Linked DNA regions of Homo sapiens: region 1 is linked to region 2. A link means that fine-mapping ties the variant in region 2 to the expression of a gene that starts in the linked region. Tissue or cell type: monocytes. Region 2 holds a variant in brackets; the other region holds the start of a gene. All regions are shown on one strand. Distances are from middle to middle.

Region 1 (8,000 bases), 540 kb before region 2:
TATATTTCCAACCTCAGTCCATGGCATAAAACTGGTATTCAATAAATGACATCTATAATTCTTATTATGCTCTCTCTTTTGACTATTTTCCTAAGCTTGAACTAAGCTATGACTTATTTGATATGTATATTATTCATTGAACATATTACTATCTCTTATTCGTAAATGAAAATACAGATGAACTATTTTATTTCTTTGCAAACAGCAACAGCAGATATTCTAACTATAAATTATATTTTATTCAATACTAACTACTCTTCTCAGGGCAGCTGGCATGCTTTAAAGAAAAACAGTCCTGTTTTCCCTTTTTTAGGCCTCTATGACATAAATAGGATTTTAAACAAACATTTATATAAGCAAAACTTTTGGATCACTTATTACATGAGGTTTAACAAACTCCCTGCAGCAGAGTTTTCCAAAGATGGGGAAGAAAAGAGTATTCCAGAAGGCCACTGGCCTAAACGCAAAAGAATACCCAGGTATCTTCTGAATATTTTCCAGGGAACCTAAGATAGGTGTATGCTCCAAGAATGTAAGTTTCTAAAAATGCTGAAAGACTGATGAGCCACAGGCAGGGAAGTAAGAAACAGAGCTCATATGCTGCTGCTTCTTGTTCTTCCCCATCTTGCGCATTAAACTCTCATTATTTGGTTTCTCTGGTTTTCGTGTGGTGGACAGAACATGGCTCAGAAAATCGGGGCTCTAGTCCTGGCATGACTCCTAACTGACCTGGCCATGTTAGCTCCCTGAACCACATTTTTCTTCAAATAAAACATACAACTGGATGCTCTCCAGAAGCTTCTAGAGTTAGAGAATTCCACAGCTTTGATTTCTTTGCCACACTAGTTTATCTTCCATTGATATCCCTCCTCCACTAGTTACTGCCAGATCAATACCTTTAACCCATCCTCAGCTCAAATCATAACCTACCAGTGGTATTGCGACATCCTCATAAGGCAGCTTGTCTTCTCGCCAAGCATCATCAATCAAATCCAAGATCCTTCCATCTCTCTGAACCTCACTGTCCATTTTCCTGCAGCTTTGATCTTGTCAAATCTGTAAGCCAAAGAGGTTATTTCTTAAACACGAAGACTGAAGAGATGGTATAATCCACTATTAGGATTCTCCAGGCTTTTTAGTCTGGGGCCACCTTTTGGGAAAAGGTTCATTTTCTCATATGGGCCGGGTGACTACTTTGATCACAGTTCCTCTCTCCAACCCCAACTGATACATATTTTATAGTGTATACTGGACAGGCATAGCCCAGCTGACAGACCAGTGTCATAGAGTGTGACAGGAGAGCAACACGTTAAACGAGGCCCTCAAATATTAATATGTTGCATCTCAATGTAGCTCTTCTCTTCTAACTTGAACATTCACCTTTTCCTGTTTGTGATGCCTTTGATGAGTCCCTGATTCATAATGGCCAGCTAAGTTTCCTTTCTAGCCCCTGGCTCAAACCTCAGCATTCTTAGGCACAGGAGTCACACGAACATACTGTAAAGGAAACGGCTTCCTTCCCTAAAATAGTACCCAGGCTGAGATCTGAATAAAGCACTTCTAGGTGAACACCAGTGGTAGAACCTCATACTGCTAAAGTTTCTCCAGTTTCTGCTTCCCTTTGGGGTAGCTCCTTCCTCGGAGGTTCCTTCCTCTAATTCTTAACGCTACACTCCCTTCAATTTCTGGCCCAAATGGTCACGATGCTTATTTAGCTCCTTGACCATGGCTGATTCCCCATTTTTCTCTGAAACTGCTATAATCTAATCCAAAAGGCTGGCTAGCTTGTAGGATACTTCTGGATTTCCCTGTTTCCAAGGTTGGGCCCTGACTCATCATAGGCATCATCCTATGGGTGCTCCCTGCTACCAAGTGACAATCCAAAAAGCCCGGAAGCCACTGGCATCAAAGGTACTCTCAGTTTCTGAGACTATGGAGACTCACACAATAAGCAATTTTGGGGTGGTGGAGCGGGGTGGAACCCACCATCTGGAGGTGCTTTTTTCAGAGCTCAGCCTGGGTGATATTTTAAGGAAGGAAGCCATTTCCTTTACAAGCTCAACTTCAGACATCGTCTTGCCTTGAGGATTTGTGTCAGGTCTGTAGTTGGTCCCTTCGCATAGTCCAGTTTAGTGTTATCTCAGTATGTTCATGAGCTCCTGTGCCTAAGAACGCTGAGGTTTGGGCCAAGGCAGGTGGAAGTTTTTGTAAAAATGGCTCACAGGGCCGGGCGCGGTGGCTCGCGCCTGTAATCCAGCACTTTGGGAGACCGAGGTGGGCGGATCACGAGGTCAGGAGATCAACACCATCCTGGCTAACAGGGTGAAACCTCGTCTCTACTAAAAATACAAAAAATTAGCCGAGCATGGTGGCAGGCGCCTGTAGTCCCAGCTACTCGGGAGGCTGAGGCAGGAGAATGGCGTGAACCTGGGAGGCGGAGCTTGCAGTGAGCCGAGATAGCGCCACGCGCCACTGCACTCCAGCCTGGGCGACAGAGCAAGATTCCGTCTCGGAAAAAAAAAAACAAAAAAAACCAAAAAGGCTCACAGCTGTCCCCCATAGGATAACTGCAAGATATCCCTAACACCTTGGCAAAAATTATACACAGATTGGTGTGGGAAAGGGTTTACACCCCCATGACAAGGATCTCGGCAAAAGTTAAGCAAAATGCGCCCTGCTACTTCTGTCACCGGTGAGCCAGGTGAGGGCTTAATTAATCCAGTACTCAATAATTAACCGAGTACTACCCAGTGGATAACTCAAAGCAAGACGAAGTTTTGGTTATACTTTTGAAGTCCCTGTCTTACAAGTGCTCCCCACTTTCCTGCTGCTACTCCTTTGTCCTTGCTGCTCTGTCTCCTGGGATACCCTTCTCACTTTCCTCAGCTGATCCAAACCTGACTTTCGGAGGCCCACGTAGATTTTCCACCTTTGTAAAGTTTTCTCAAATCACTCGAGCTTCAGTAGGCCTTCTATCCTTGAACTCTTGCTTCTTGTCCTAACTTAATCTACTAAACAAGCTAGGTCAGCTTTGTGGTCAATTGCTCAGGTATTATTGCCTCCAACTGTTACGTGTACATTTTGTACCCATGATTCCTTAGTAGATCTTTCCACATTTGGTCTCAATCTTTTTCACCTGTCCCTTCTCCAAACACCTCCAACCCTGTCACATTTTCCAGCCTTGACAGTTAAAACCCCCTTTTCCACATCACTAATGCCACTCTTCCTTTCAAGATAAACGCAGGCGTCAGCTCTTGAAGGTCAACATCCCATTTCCGGGATTAGGCGCGAAGGTGCCTTCCCTCATAAGGGGCTGGAAGGATGGGAAGCATCAAGATAATCAATGCCCAGGGCACACTGATTATCTTGTGTATTAAAGCCACCGTCCCAAGTACTCGTCACCCAGTACGACCACTGTTTCCTGAACAAACTTTTCTTACTCACGTGACAGTCCCGATGCCTGCAATGCTCTTTGTTTCTTCCTTTTTATTCCAGTGAACCCACAGTCAGTCTAAAAATCTTAGGTCCCAGGTCGCTTCCTATAGGAGGCCGCCTCCAAACCCCAGGCTGAGTGCGGTCCCGGTACCCACCCCTCCAGGGGTCTCACAGTTCCCTAAGCACAGAGCATGGCACCAACTGGGGAGTCTGTCAAACAGCCCAGATGAATGTCTTTCCAAACACGCGGTGCCTGCGTTTCCAGGGACAGGGACACGTCTTATCAATTTCTATATATTACAGCTTTGTAAACATAATATTTATAAAATCAAAGCGGGAAAGCCTTGTTCCTTGCTAGAAATGAGCCTCGCAGGCCACCACCATCCGCACCGTACGACAGGCCGTCCCTCAGCTGCGGCTTCCTGCCTCAGGCAGGATGTACCAAACGTGGAAGCGGAGACGGGGAGGTCTGGGGGTGCCACGCAAGTCCCTTTCCTCCCGACACGAGTGCAGTAAAGAAAAACGGTTATGAGCGTAAAGTGACAGCCTCGGCCGATGGGAATAGGGGGAAGTCCGACACTGAGCAACGAACGCATTCCCGCGCCTCCAAAACCTAGGCCGGGGGCGCTGGAAACCCTTACCGGCACCCGGCCACCGCGGCAGACGCTTGCTCCTGCCACGCCCCCCCCCCCTCCCCCGCATCACGTGTCTGCACTCGCTTTCCTCGGATTCCCGGATGTGGGTGAGTTCATTTGCTCGCGTGCAGGGGAAGTCTGGAGAAGGCATTGTTTCAATTATTAAAAGTGTGGGGGCAGTGGGCGGAACAAACGCGCCGACTACAGAGGCTGGACGTAAGCTTAGCGGTGGCGCGCGTGCGCAGCGCCGGCCCGAGGTAACGGCGGGAAGGCTCAGGGGCGTGCTTGCGGCAACCCTGTAACCGCCGGTGCGCAAGTTGGAGGGGCAAGGGGCTGCCGTGTCCTGGTCTGGAGGCGGCCCAGGCTGCCTTGGTGATTCTGGCTTCGCGGCCTCATGGCTTGCGGCCGGTTTGCGCAACGGCCTGCGAACCACCAGGCGCGTCCCCGCCGGCTTGGGTCCGCCCCGAAGCCCAGTCCCTCGGCCTGGCCCGCTATGCCCTGCACACTGGCGGAGTCTGGCGTGGCGCAGCCCGGCGTGGGGTTCGGCCCCGCCAGGTGGTCAGCCCTTCCTCGGAGTCCAGGTGGCTGGGGGCGCTTCGGAGAGTGGCCAGGTGGGCGAGCGAGCTGCGCCCAGTACTCACCTTCCCCGGCGGACCCACCTTCCTTTTCAGCGGAGAGACCCCAGTGCGGCCTCCCTGCCAGGGCTGCTGTCTAGCTAGCGCTGTTGGGACTACTTCATTCACGGCACAAGGGGACCCGCTCATTTAGTGTGGCATGTTAAGGTTGGCAGCTTTTAAAATAGTGAGTTGGTTTAAACGGTTATGTTAGTACAAGAGGTACGGAAATGTGGCATAAATCGTGGACTGAAATTGGAGAACCCTGAACTAACGGCTCCATGCACACAAATGAGGGATAGAAAGAAATAAGGACGGTTTCTTAGGAACACTTTAATCATGGAGATACTTGAAGACAGTACATTTAGGCTTATAATGTGGTTTTTCTTACGTCCCTTACGACATCAGGAGAGTAAAGATGAGTATGATGTCAGAGACAGGTCGTCTTTTACAGTTTCAGCACCGTACGCTGATATGCACAGAGTAGTTTTCCCTGAGCCTTATGTCTGGTTAAACTTATTAAAAGAATTTATTATTTTAATAAAGCAGTATTGTAGGGTAGATGCCCTGTATTTATACAGTTCCTCAAGTGCTTGCATTTATTTTTTAGATACGAGGAAATCATAAGGATCGTTGATTAGATTTCTGTTAGCTGTAGCTTAATGATAAAGTGTATATATTTTCTTATTTGGCATGCAGTACCATTTTTAGATTGATTTTTATTTTGAGTTTGCTTTTTGACTGTGGCATTATCAGTGATCAGGGTAGTAAAAAGCTCTGAAACTAAATTAGAGTAGAGATTTATAAACAGGCACACTGCCTTTTAAAATGTATGTAGATGCAAATCTAAAAGTTGTTTGTAAAAATTGTGTATGTTGATTGTACTGATGCCATTTCCTCTCGTTAAAATGGTGGAAGACCTTTGCTTAGTCCTTTCTGTTCTAATTTATGTTGTGCTGGCAGATGGTGACAGCATCAGTAGTCCACTCTGTCATTGCTTCCTGCTTTCAAAAAATGTCAACTTGACTTGAAATTCAGCTAAAGCCAACATTGACAGAAGGTTTCAGGAACTGAATCTCCGATCTTTATGTTATTTTAGTCCGCCTCCCCGCCCCCATCAGGAGCTAGGTTTTTCAGTTTTACAGAGCCACAGTACTGTCATTACACATACACAAATTAATAAAAATTCTCTAATGTCAATATCCAGTCAGATAACGATTTCTTCAACTGTCTCTTAAATGTCTTTTTACAATTAGCTTGTTTGAACCAAAATCCCACAGGGATCTGCCTATTGTGTTTGGGTGATGCACATTTGACATCTTTTAATCTATATTTGTTCCCTCATAGTTATAGCTATGGGATTAGCCCCTATTTTTCCTTACAGTTCTAAATTTAGCAGATTGCATCGCACAGTATCCTTTAACATGTATCTCTGTTGCCTTTGTGTCCTCTAAACCAGGGGCCCCCAAACCCGGGGCCGCAGAGCAGTACCAGTCCGTGGCCTGTTAGGAACCAGGCTACAGAGCAGGAGGTGAGTGACAGGCTAGTGAGCATTACCTACCACCTGAGCTCTGCCTCCTGTCAGATCAGCCGTGAGGTTAGATTCTCCTAGGGGCACGAACCCTATTGTAAACTGCGCATGCAAGGAATCTAGGTTGCACACTTATAAGAATCTGACTAATGCCTGATGATCTGAGGTGGAATAGTTTCATCCTGAAACCATGCCCCTAACCCTGTCCATGTGTATTATTCATATTACTGAAGAAGTGGTTGGCCGGGCGCGGTGACTCACGCCTGTAATCCCAGCACTTTGGGAGGCCGAGGTGGGCATGAGGTCAGGAGTTTGAGACCAGTGTGGCCAACATAGTGAAACCCCGTCTCTACTGAAAATGCAATAAAATTAGCCGAGTGTGGTGGTGTGCGCCTGTAATCCCAGCTACTCGGGAGGCTGAGGCAGGAGAATCACGTGAATCCGGGAGGCGGAGGTTGCAGTGAGCCGAGATCACACCATTGCTCTCCAGACCAGGCAAGAGTGCAAGACTCGGTCTCAAAAAACAAAAAAAAGTGGTTTGGCCATTCCTCCCCCAAAACATTTCATATGAATTTTAACAAAAAGATATTTACAAAATGTGTTATTTCCGCCCTGTCGGTGTTGAGAAATTGTCTTCCATGAAACAGGTCCCTGGTGCCAAAAAGGTTGGGGACCACTGCTCTAAACCAGTAGTTAGATGTAGAATTGCACTGTCCGGTATTGTAGCCACCAGCCAGCAGTGGCTAGTTAATTAAAGTGAAATAAAATTAAAAATTCAGTTCCTAGGCTGGGCGCGGTGGCTCACGCCTGTAATCCCAGCACTTTGGGAGGCTGAGGTGGGTGGATCACGAGGTCAGGAGTTCGAGACCAGCCTGACCAACATGGTGAAACCCCGTCTCTACTAAAAATGAAAAATTAGCCGGGCGTGGTGGCATGCGCCTGTAATCTCAGCTACTAAGGAAGCTGAGGCAGGAGAAGGAGAATCGCTTGAACCCGGGAGGTGGAGGTTGCAGTGAGCCGAGATCACGCCACTGCACTCCAGCCTGGGTGACGGAGCGAGACTGTCTCAAAAAAAAAAAAAAAAAAAAAATTCAGTTCCTAACTTGCATTAGCCACATTTCAAGTGCTCGGTAGCTACAGATTGCCTGGTGGCTGCTTTTTGAACAGTGCAGTTATAAAATATTTTCATAATTGCAGAAAGTTGTATTGAACAGCACTGCTCTAGAAGCCTGATGAGATTTCACCCTTATATTTGTTTTTGTTTTGTTTTTTGGTGGGATAGTTGGGGGGGTTGGACAGATAATTTCATAGGTAATGCAGTATACTTCCTATTTCATTAATTATCAGGGAAGCAGTGTCTGAGTTGTTTTCTTTTTTTATGATGTTAACATTAAACATTATATTGGGTTTAGGTGTAGTTAGCTCCATCCACCCATAGTGAAATTCCCCAAGACTCTTTCACTTAGTGGTGAAGTCCTTTTGTGGGGTTATATTGCCTGTATCCGTTATTGCATTAGAGGTTGCAACGTGGTGATTATCTAATTCTATTATTTCTTCAATATTTATCAACTGAGAGTCTTTTATGAAGAACTTTCCCTTTCCAGCTGTTTGACTACCCTGAAATACAATTTGTACAGGAAAGGCAAGAAAAATGCTTAATTCTTTGCCTCTATTTTCAGACCACAGTAATGAGTTGGTGGCCTAGCAGCCTCCAAAGGTAACCATGAGGGTTTTTGCCTTTTTGTAAACCTATAATCATGAACTTATAGACTTTATATTTAAACT
Region 2 (8,000 bases):
TTTAAACTCTTTAAAAAATAATTCCTGTTTCTTAGGAGAATTGTTTTGAATATATAGTTTGGTATTTTAGGTGAATATATCACTGGTTAAGATTATAATTTGGGATGAACAATGAAGTAGTTTATTTTGGGCCAAACTGAAAAGGGGCCCCGCTGCAACTTTAAATACATGTAATCAGCTCTTCCAGACACCACCAACACTTGGTTCAGGCCACACGTGGTAATGATGGCTGAGCTGAGCTATCAGCTTACAGTCTCTACCTAGTCAATTCTGAAACCAGGCAGTGATGAAAATCCCCTCTAAATGCAAAGAAGTGTGAGACTCAGTTGAAGCATGGTGTGAAAACAGTTTGGCTGCATACCCTTTGCCCAACTTCATCTCAAGAGACTCGGGAAAAATATAGAAACACCTCCTTTCCATATTGTTTATTTTCATGTCACAAACTGTTGGGTGGAATGAAAACAGGGCTCTAGTGTTGCTCTAGTTGTGAAAATACAACTTTTACTTCTTCTGTTTTAATCCCAGAGAGGGGAAGTTCCAACTAATCTGCTAAAGCCACCTTCTTTAAAACCTTTCAACCACGTGGTTTAGAAACACGGATGGACATCGCCAGAATTTAAAAGTGTGCTAGTTCCCAGCCAGAGCAGAGCACGTGTCTGGGGGCTCCCTTTTCATCTGGTCTCCATCCATCCTACACCGGGGGGTTGTCTAGCACCTTTTTCCTTCCTGTTGTAGTGGGCCCACTTTGGAAATGGCAGCTTTTCATTTCGTAAATTAATTTCTATTTTTATTAAAGTAATGGATTAAACAATTCCATGAGTACCAAAAGGAAAAAATCAGTTTCCTGATCATCTCCCCTACCCCATTCTTTTCCCTAACACTTCCTATCTGTTTCTTAGATATACTCCCATTTTTTGAATTATATGCTTAATGTGCTTTATTGATGTCAATTTAGACATTGTCTTTTGACTTCCCTTTATCAATGCTGAGGATTTGGATCTCTTGCCCCTTTCTATATTTTTCTTCTTCTCTTATTTTGCTAATATCTATTACTATATGTATTATATATCCATGTGGTAATTATATATGATTTTTCATATCTACATATGTATAATACAAAATGTATATTTGTTCACTTTGTTAACATATATTTACAACTTTTTTGTTAAATGTAGCGTGTTTAGATTATTATATCTATACAACCTTCCTTCCTTCCCTCCCTCCCTCCCTCCCCCCTTCCTTCCTTCCTTCCCTCCTTCCTTCCCTCCTTCCTTCTTTCTTTTTTTTTTTTTTTTCAAGAAGGTTACAAAGAATATTTATTTATTTATTTATTTATTATTATACTTTAAGTTTTAGGGTACATGTGCACACTGTGCAGGTTAGTTACATACGTATACATGTGCCATGCTGGTGTGCTGCACCCACTAACTCGTCATCTAGCATTAGGTATATCTCCCAATGCTATCCCTCCCCCCTCCCCCCACCCCACAACAATCCCCAGAGTGTGATGTTCCCCTTCCTGTGTCCATGTGATCTCATTGTTCAGTTCCCACCTATGAGTGAGAATATGCGGTGTTTGGTTTTTTGTTCTTGCGATAGTTTACTGAGAATGATGATTTCCAATTTCATCCATGTCCCTACAAAGGACATGAACTCATCATTTTTTATGGCTGCATAGTATTCCATGGTGTATATGTGCCACAATTTGCTTAATCAAGTCTATCATTGTTGGACATTTGGGTTGGTTCCAAGTCTTTGCTATTGTGAATAATGCCGCAATAAACATACGTGTGCATGTGTCTTTATAGCAGCATGATTTATAGTCCTTTGGGTATATACCCAGTAATGGGATGGCTGGGTCAAATGGTATTTCTAGTTCTAGATCCCTGAGGAATCGCCACACTGACTTCCACAATGGTTGAACTAGTTTACAGTCCCACCAACAGTGTAAAAGTGTTCCTATTTCTCCACATCCTCTCCAGCACCTGTTGTTTCCTGACTTTTTAATGATTGCCATTCTAACTGGTGTGAGATGGTATCTCATTGTGGTTTTGATTTGCATTTCTCTGATGGCCAGTGATGATGAGCATTTTTTCATGTGTTGTTTGGCTGCATAAATGTCTTCTTTTGAGAAGTGTCTGTTCATGTCCTTCACCCACTTTTTGATGGGGTTGTTTGTTTTTTTCTTGTAAATTTGTTTGAGTTCATTGTAGATTCTGGATATTAGCCCTTTGTCAGATGAGTAGGTTGCAAAAATTTTCTCCCATTTTGTAGGTTGCCTGTTCACTGTGATGGTAGTTTCTTTTGCTGTGCAGAAGCTCTTTAGTTTAATTAGATCCCATTTGTCAATTTTGTCTTTTGTTGCCATTGCTTTTGGTGTTTTAGACATGAAGTCCTTGCCCATGCCTATGTCCTGAATGGTAATGCCTAGGTTTTCTTCTAGGGTTTTTATGGTTTTAGGTCTAACGTTTAAGTCTTTAATCCATCTTGAATTGATTTTTGTATATGGTGTAAGGAAGGGATCCAGTTTCAGCTTTCTACATATGGCTAGCCAGTTTTCCCAGCACCATTTATTAAATAGGGAATCCTTTCCCCATTGCTTGTTTTTCTCAGGTTTGTGAAAGATCAGATAGTTGTAGATATGCGGCGTTATTTCTGAGGGCTCTGTTCTGTTCCATTGATCTATATCTCTGTTTTGGTACCAGTACCATGCTGTTTTGGTTACTGTAGCCTTGTAGTATAGTTTGAAGTCAGGTAGTGTGATGCCTCCAGCTTTGTTCTTTTGGCGTAGGATTGACTTGGCAATGCGGGCTCTTTTTTGGTTCCATATGAACTTTAAAGTAGTTTTTTCCAATTCTGTGAAGAAAGGCATTGGTAGCTTGATGGGGATGGCATTGAATCTGTAAATTACCTTGGGCAGTATGGCCATTTTCACGGTATTGATTCTTCCTACCCATGAGCATGGAATGTTCTTCCATTTGTTTGTATCCTCTTTTATTTCCTTGAGCAGTGGTTTGTAGTTCTCCTTGAAGAGGTCCTTCACATCCCTTGTAAGTTGGATTCCTAGGTATTTTATTCTCTTTGAAGCAATTGTGAATGGGAGTTCACTCATGATTTGGCTCTCTGTTTGTCTGTTGTTGGTGTATAGGAATGCTTGTGATTTTTGCACATTGATTTTGTATCCTGAGACTTTGCTGAAGTTGCTTATCAGCTTAAGGAGATTTTGGGCTGAGACAATGGGGTTTTCTACATATACAATCATGTCATCTGCAAACAGGGACAATTTGACTTCCTCTTTTCCTAATTGAATACCCTTTATTTCCTTCTCCTGCCTAATTGCCCTGGCCAGGACTTCCAGCACTATGTTGAATAGGAGTGGTGAGAGAGGGCATCCCTGTCTTGTGCCAGTTTTCAAAGGGAATGCTTCCAGTTTTTGCCCATTCAGTATGATATTGGCTGTGGGTTTGTCATAGATAGCTCTTATTATTTTGAAATACGTCCCATCAATACCTAATTTATTGAGAGTTTTTAGCATGAAGGGTTGTTGAATTTTGTCAAAGGCCTTTTCTGCATCTATTGAGATAATCATGTGGTTTTTGTCTTTGGCTCTGTTTATATGCTGGATTACATTTATTGATTTGCGTATATTGAACCAGCCTTGCATCCCAGGGATGAAGCCCACTTGATCATGGTGCATAAGCTTTTTGATGTGCTGCTGGATTCGTTTTGCCAGTATTTTATTGAGGATTTTTGCATCAATGTTCATCAAGGATATTGGTGATATTGGTCTAAAATTCTCTTTTTTGGTTGTGTCTCTGCCCGGCTTTGGTATCAGAATGATGCTGGCCTCATAAAATGAGTTAGGGAGGATTCCCTCTTTTTCTATTGATTGGAATAGTTTCAGAAGGAATGGTACCAGTTCCTCCTTGTACCTCTGGTAGAATTCGGCTGTGAATCCATCTGGTCCTGGACTCTTTTTGCTTGGTAAGGTATTGATTATTGCCACAACTTCAGATCCTGTTATTGGTCTATTCAGAGATTCAACTTCTTCCTGGTTTAGTCTTGGGAGAGTGTATGTGTCAAGGAATTTATCCATTTCTTCTAGATTTTCTAGTTTATTTGCGTAGAGGTGTTTGTAGTATTCTCTGATGGTAGTTTGTATTTCTGTGGGATC[G/A]GTGGTGATATCCCCTTTATCATTTTTTATTGTGTCTATTTGATTCTTCTCTCTTTTTTTCTTTATTAGTCTTGCTAGCGGTCTATCAATTTTGTTGATCCTTTCAAAAAACCAGCTCCTGGATTCACTAATTTTTTGAAGGGTTTTTTGTGTCTCTATTTCCTTCAGTTCTGCTCTGATTTTAGTTATTTCTTGCCTTCTACTAGCTTTTGAATGTGTTTGCTCTTGCTTTTCTAGTTCTTTTAATTGTGATGTTAGGGTGTCAATTTTTGATCTCTCCTGCTTTCTCTTGTAGGCATTTAGTGCTATAAATTTCCCTCTACACACTGCTTTGAATGTGTCCCAGAGATTCTGGTATGTTGTGTCTTTGTTCTCGTTGGTTTCAAAGAACATCTTTATTTCTGCCTTCATTTCGTTACGTACCCAGTAGTCATTCAGGAGCAGGTTGTTCAGTTTCCATGTAGGTGAGCGGTTTTGAGTGAGATTCTTAATCCTGAGTTCTAGTTTGATTGCACTGTGGTCTGAGAGATAGTTTGTTATAATTTCTGTTCTTTTACCTTTGCTGAGGAGAGCTTTACTTCCAAGTATGTGGTCAATTTTGGAATAGGTGTGGTGTGGTGCTGAAAAAAATGTATATTCTGTTGATTTGGGGTGGAGAGTTCTGTAGATGTCTATTAGGTCTGCTTGGTGCAGAGCTGAGTTCAATTCCTGGGTATCCTTGTTGACTTTCTGTCTCGTTGATCTGTCTAATGTTGACAGTGGGGTGTTAAAGTCTCCCATTATTAATGTGTGGGAGTCTAAGTCTCTTTGTAGGTCACTCAGGACTTGCTTTATGAATCTGGGTGCTCCTGTATTGGGTGCATATATATTTAGGATAGTTAGCTCTTTTTGTTGAATTGATCCCTTTACCATTATGTAATGGCCTTCTTTGTCTCTTTTGATCTTTGTTGGTTTAAAGTCTGTTTTATCAGAGACTAGGATTGCAACCCCTGCCTTTTTTTGTTTTCCCTTTGCTTGGTAGATCTTCCTCCATCCTTTTATTTTGAGCCTATGTGTGTCTCTGCACGTGAGATGGGTTTCTTGAATACAGCACACTGATGGGTCTTGACTCTTGCCAATTTGCCAGTCTGTGTCTTTTAATTGGAGCATTTAGTCCATTTACATTTAAAGTTAATAGTGTTATGTGTGAATTTGATCCTGTCATTATGATGTTAGCTGGTCATTTTGCTCGTTAGTTGATGCAGTTTCTTCCTAGTCTGGATGGTCTTTACATTTTGGCATGATTTTGCAGCAGCTGGTACTGGTTGTTCCTTTCCATGTTTAGCGCTTCCTTCAGAAGCTCTTTTAGGGCAGGCCTGGTGGTTACAAAATCTCTCAGCATTTGCTTGTCTATAAAGTATTTTATTTCTCCTTCACTTATGAAGCTTAGTTTGGCTGGATATGAAATTCTGGGTTGAAAATTCTTTTCTTTAAGAATGTTGAATATTGGCCCCCACTCTCTTCTGGCTTGTAGGGTTTCTGCCGAGAGATCCGCTGTTAGTCTGATGGGCTTCCCTTTGAGGGTAACCCGACCTTTCTCTCTGGCTGCCCTTAACATTTTTTCCTTCATTTCAACTTTGGTGAATCTGACACTTATGTGTCTTGGAGTTGCTCTTCTCGAGGAGTATCTTTGTGGCATTCTCTGTATTTCCTGAATCTGAACGTTGGCCTGCCTTGCGAGATTTGGGAAATTCTCCTGGATAATATCCTGCAGAGTGTTTTCCAACTTGGTTCCATTCTCCCCATCACTTTCAGGTATACCAATCAGAGGTAGATTTTGTCTTTTCACATAGTCCCATATTTCTTGGAGGCTTTGCTCGTTTCTTTTTATTCTTTTTTCTCTAAACTTCCCTTCTCGCTTCATTTCATTCATTTCATCTTCCATTACTGATACCCTTTCTTCCAGTTGATTGCATCGGCTCCTGAGGCTTCTGCATTCTTCACGTAGTTCTCGAGCCTTGGTTTTCAGCTCCATCAGCTCCTTTAAGCACTTCTCTGTATTGGTTATTCTAGTTATACATTCTTCTAAATTTTTTTCAAAGTTTTCAACTTCTTTGCCTTTGGTTTGAATTTCCTCCCATAGCTCAGAGTAATTTGATCGTCTGAAGCCTTCTTCTCTCAGCTCGTCAAAGTCATTCTCCGTCCAGCTTTGTTCTGTTGCTGGTGAGGAGCTGCGTTCCTTTGCAGGAGGAGAGGCGCTCTGCTTTTTAGAGTTTCCATTTTTTCTGTTCTGTTTTTTCCCTATCTTTGTGGTTTTATCTACTTTTGGTCTTTGATGATGGTGATGTACAGATGGGTTTTTGGTGTGGATGTCCTTTCTGTTTGTTAGTTTTCCTTCTAACAGACAGGACCCTCAGCTGCAGGTCTGTTGGAATACCCTGCAGTGTGAGGTGTCAGTATGCCCCTGCTGGAGGGTGCCTCCCAGTTAGGCTGGTCGGGGGTCAGGGGTCAGGGACCCACTTGAGGAGGCAGTCTGCCCGTTCTCAGATCTCCAGCTGCGTCCTGGGAGAACCACTGCTCTCTTCGAAGCTGTCAGACAGGGACATTTAAGTCCGCAGAGGTTACTGCTGTCTTTTTGTTTGTCTGTGCCCTGCCCCCAGAGGTGGAGCCTACAGAGGCAGGCAGGCCTCCTTGAGCTGTGGTGGGCTCCACCCAGTTCAAGCTTCCCTGCTGCTTTGTTTACCTAAGCAAGCCTGGGCAATGGTGGGCGCCCCTCCCCCAGCCTCGCTGCCGCCTTGCAGTTTGATCTCAGACTGCTGTGCTAGCAATCAGCGAGACTCCTTGGAGTAGGACCCTCGGAGCCAGGTGCGGCATGTAATCTCGTGGTGCGCCATTTTTTAAGCCCGTCGGAAAAGCGCAGTATTCGGGTGGGTGTGACCCTATTCTCCAGGTGCCGTCCATCACCCCTTTCTTTGATTAGGAAAGGGAACTCCCTGACCCCTTGCGCTTCCCGAGTCAGGCAATGTCTCGCCCTGCTTTGGCTCGTGCACGGTGCGCGCACCCACTGACCTGCGCCCACTGTCTGGCACTCCCTAGTGAGATGAACCCCGTACCTCAGATGGAAATGCAGAAATCACCTGTCTTCTGTGTCGTCAGGCTGAGAGCTGTAGACTGGAGCTGTTCCTATTCGGCCCTCTTGGCTCCTCCCTCAAGAAGGTTACAAAGAATCCCTTCTCTCTTTTCTTCCTTCTCTCTCTCTCTTTCTCCCTTTCTCTCTTTCTCTGTTTCTTGATGGGGTCTCACTCTGTAGCCTTGTCTGGAGTGTAGTGGCCTGGTCTCAGCTCACTGCAACTTCTGCCTCCTGGGCTCAAATAATCCTCCTGCCTCAGCATCCAGCGTAGCTGTGACTGGAGGTATACACCACCATGCCTGGCGAATTTTTGTATATTTTGTAGAGGCAGGGTTTCTCCACATTGTCCATGCTGGTCTTGAACTCCTGGGCTCAAGTGATCTGCCTGCCTGGATCTCCCAAATTGCCGGGGTTATAGGCATGAGCCACTGCATCCAGCTGCAACTATTTTTCAATGCTTAGCCAAGTAGAGTTACATTGTTATTTTCTTTTTCTTGTACTTTTTTCCACAAAGCCAATCAAAATTCTATAATAATAACAAATATTATTTTCCAAATGCTCAGATAGTTCAGATGATCTCCCAACTCCTTCCTCAAGTCCTCTCTTCAAAAGTATGCTTGAAAGGTAAATGTTTTGTATCCTCACTTCTCTGAAAATACAATTATCCTACCCTTATATTTCGTTGATTGGCTGGGTATGATGTCTAAGTTAAAAATC

What was found. PIP is the estimated chance that this variant, and not a neighbour inherited with it, causes the effect.
Region 1: ANAPC13 starts here. The variant in region 2 is fine-mapped to the expression of ANAPC13 in monocytes (Quach 2016, PIP 0.95).

What each region holds. Positions count from the first base shown.
Region 1 is chr3:134,481,876-134,489,875 of GRCh38, forward strand. ANAPC13 (anaphase promoting complex subunit 13) reads right to left here and starts at 4,110. Exons shown (of 3, transcript NM_015391.4): 1 at 4,077-4,110; 2 at 931-1,056. The coding sequence starts at 1,029. It overlaps CEP63 (centrosomal protein 63), which reads left to right and starts at 4,182. Exons shown (of 15, transcript NM_001353108.3): 1 at 4,182-4,327. RefSeq lists enhancers at 3,765-3,884, 3,915-4,014, 4,095-4,204, 4,296-5,114.
Region 2 is chr3:135,023,887-135,031,886 of GRCh38, forward strand. The region is part of intron 3 of EPHB1 (EPH receptor B1); the gene reads left to right. Among named protein-coding and RNA genes, the nearest start is that of EPHB1, 230 kb to the left of the region's middle. The variant G/A (reference allele first, on the strand shown) is at 4,175.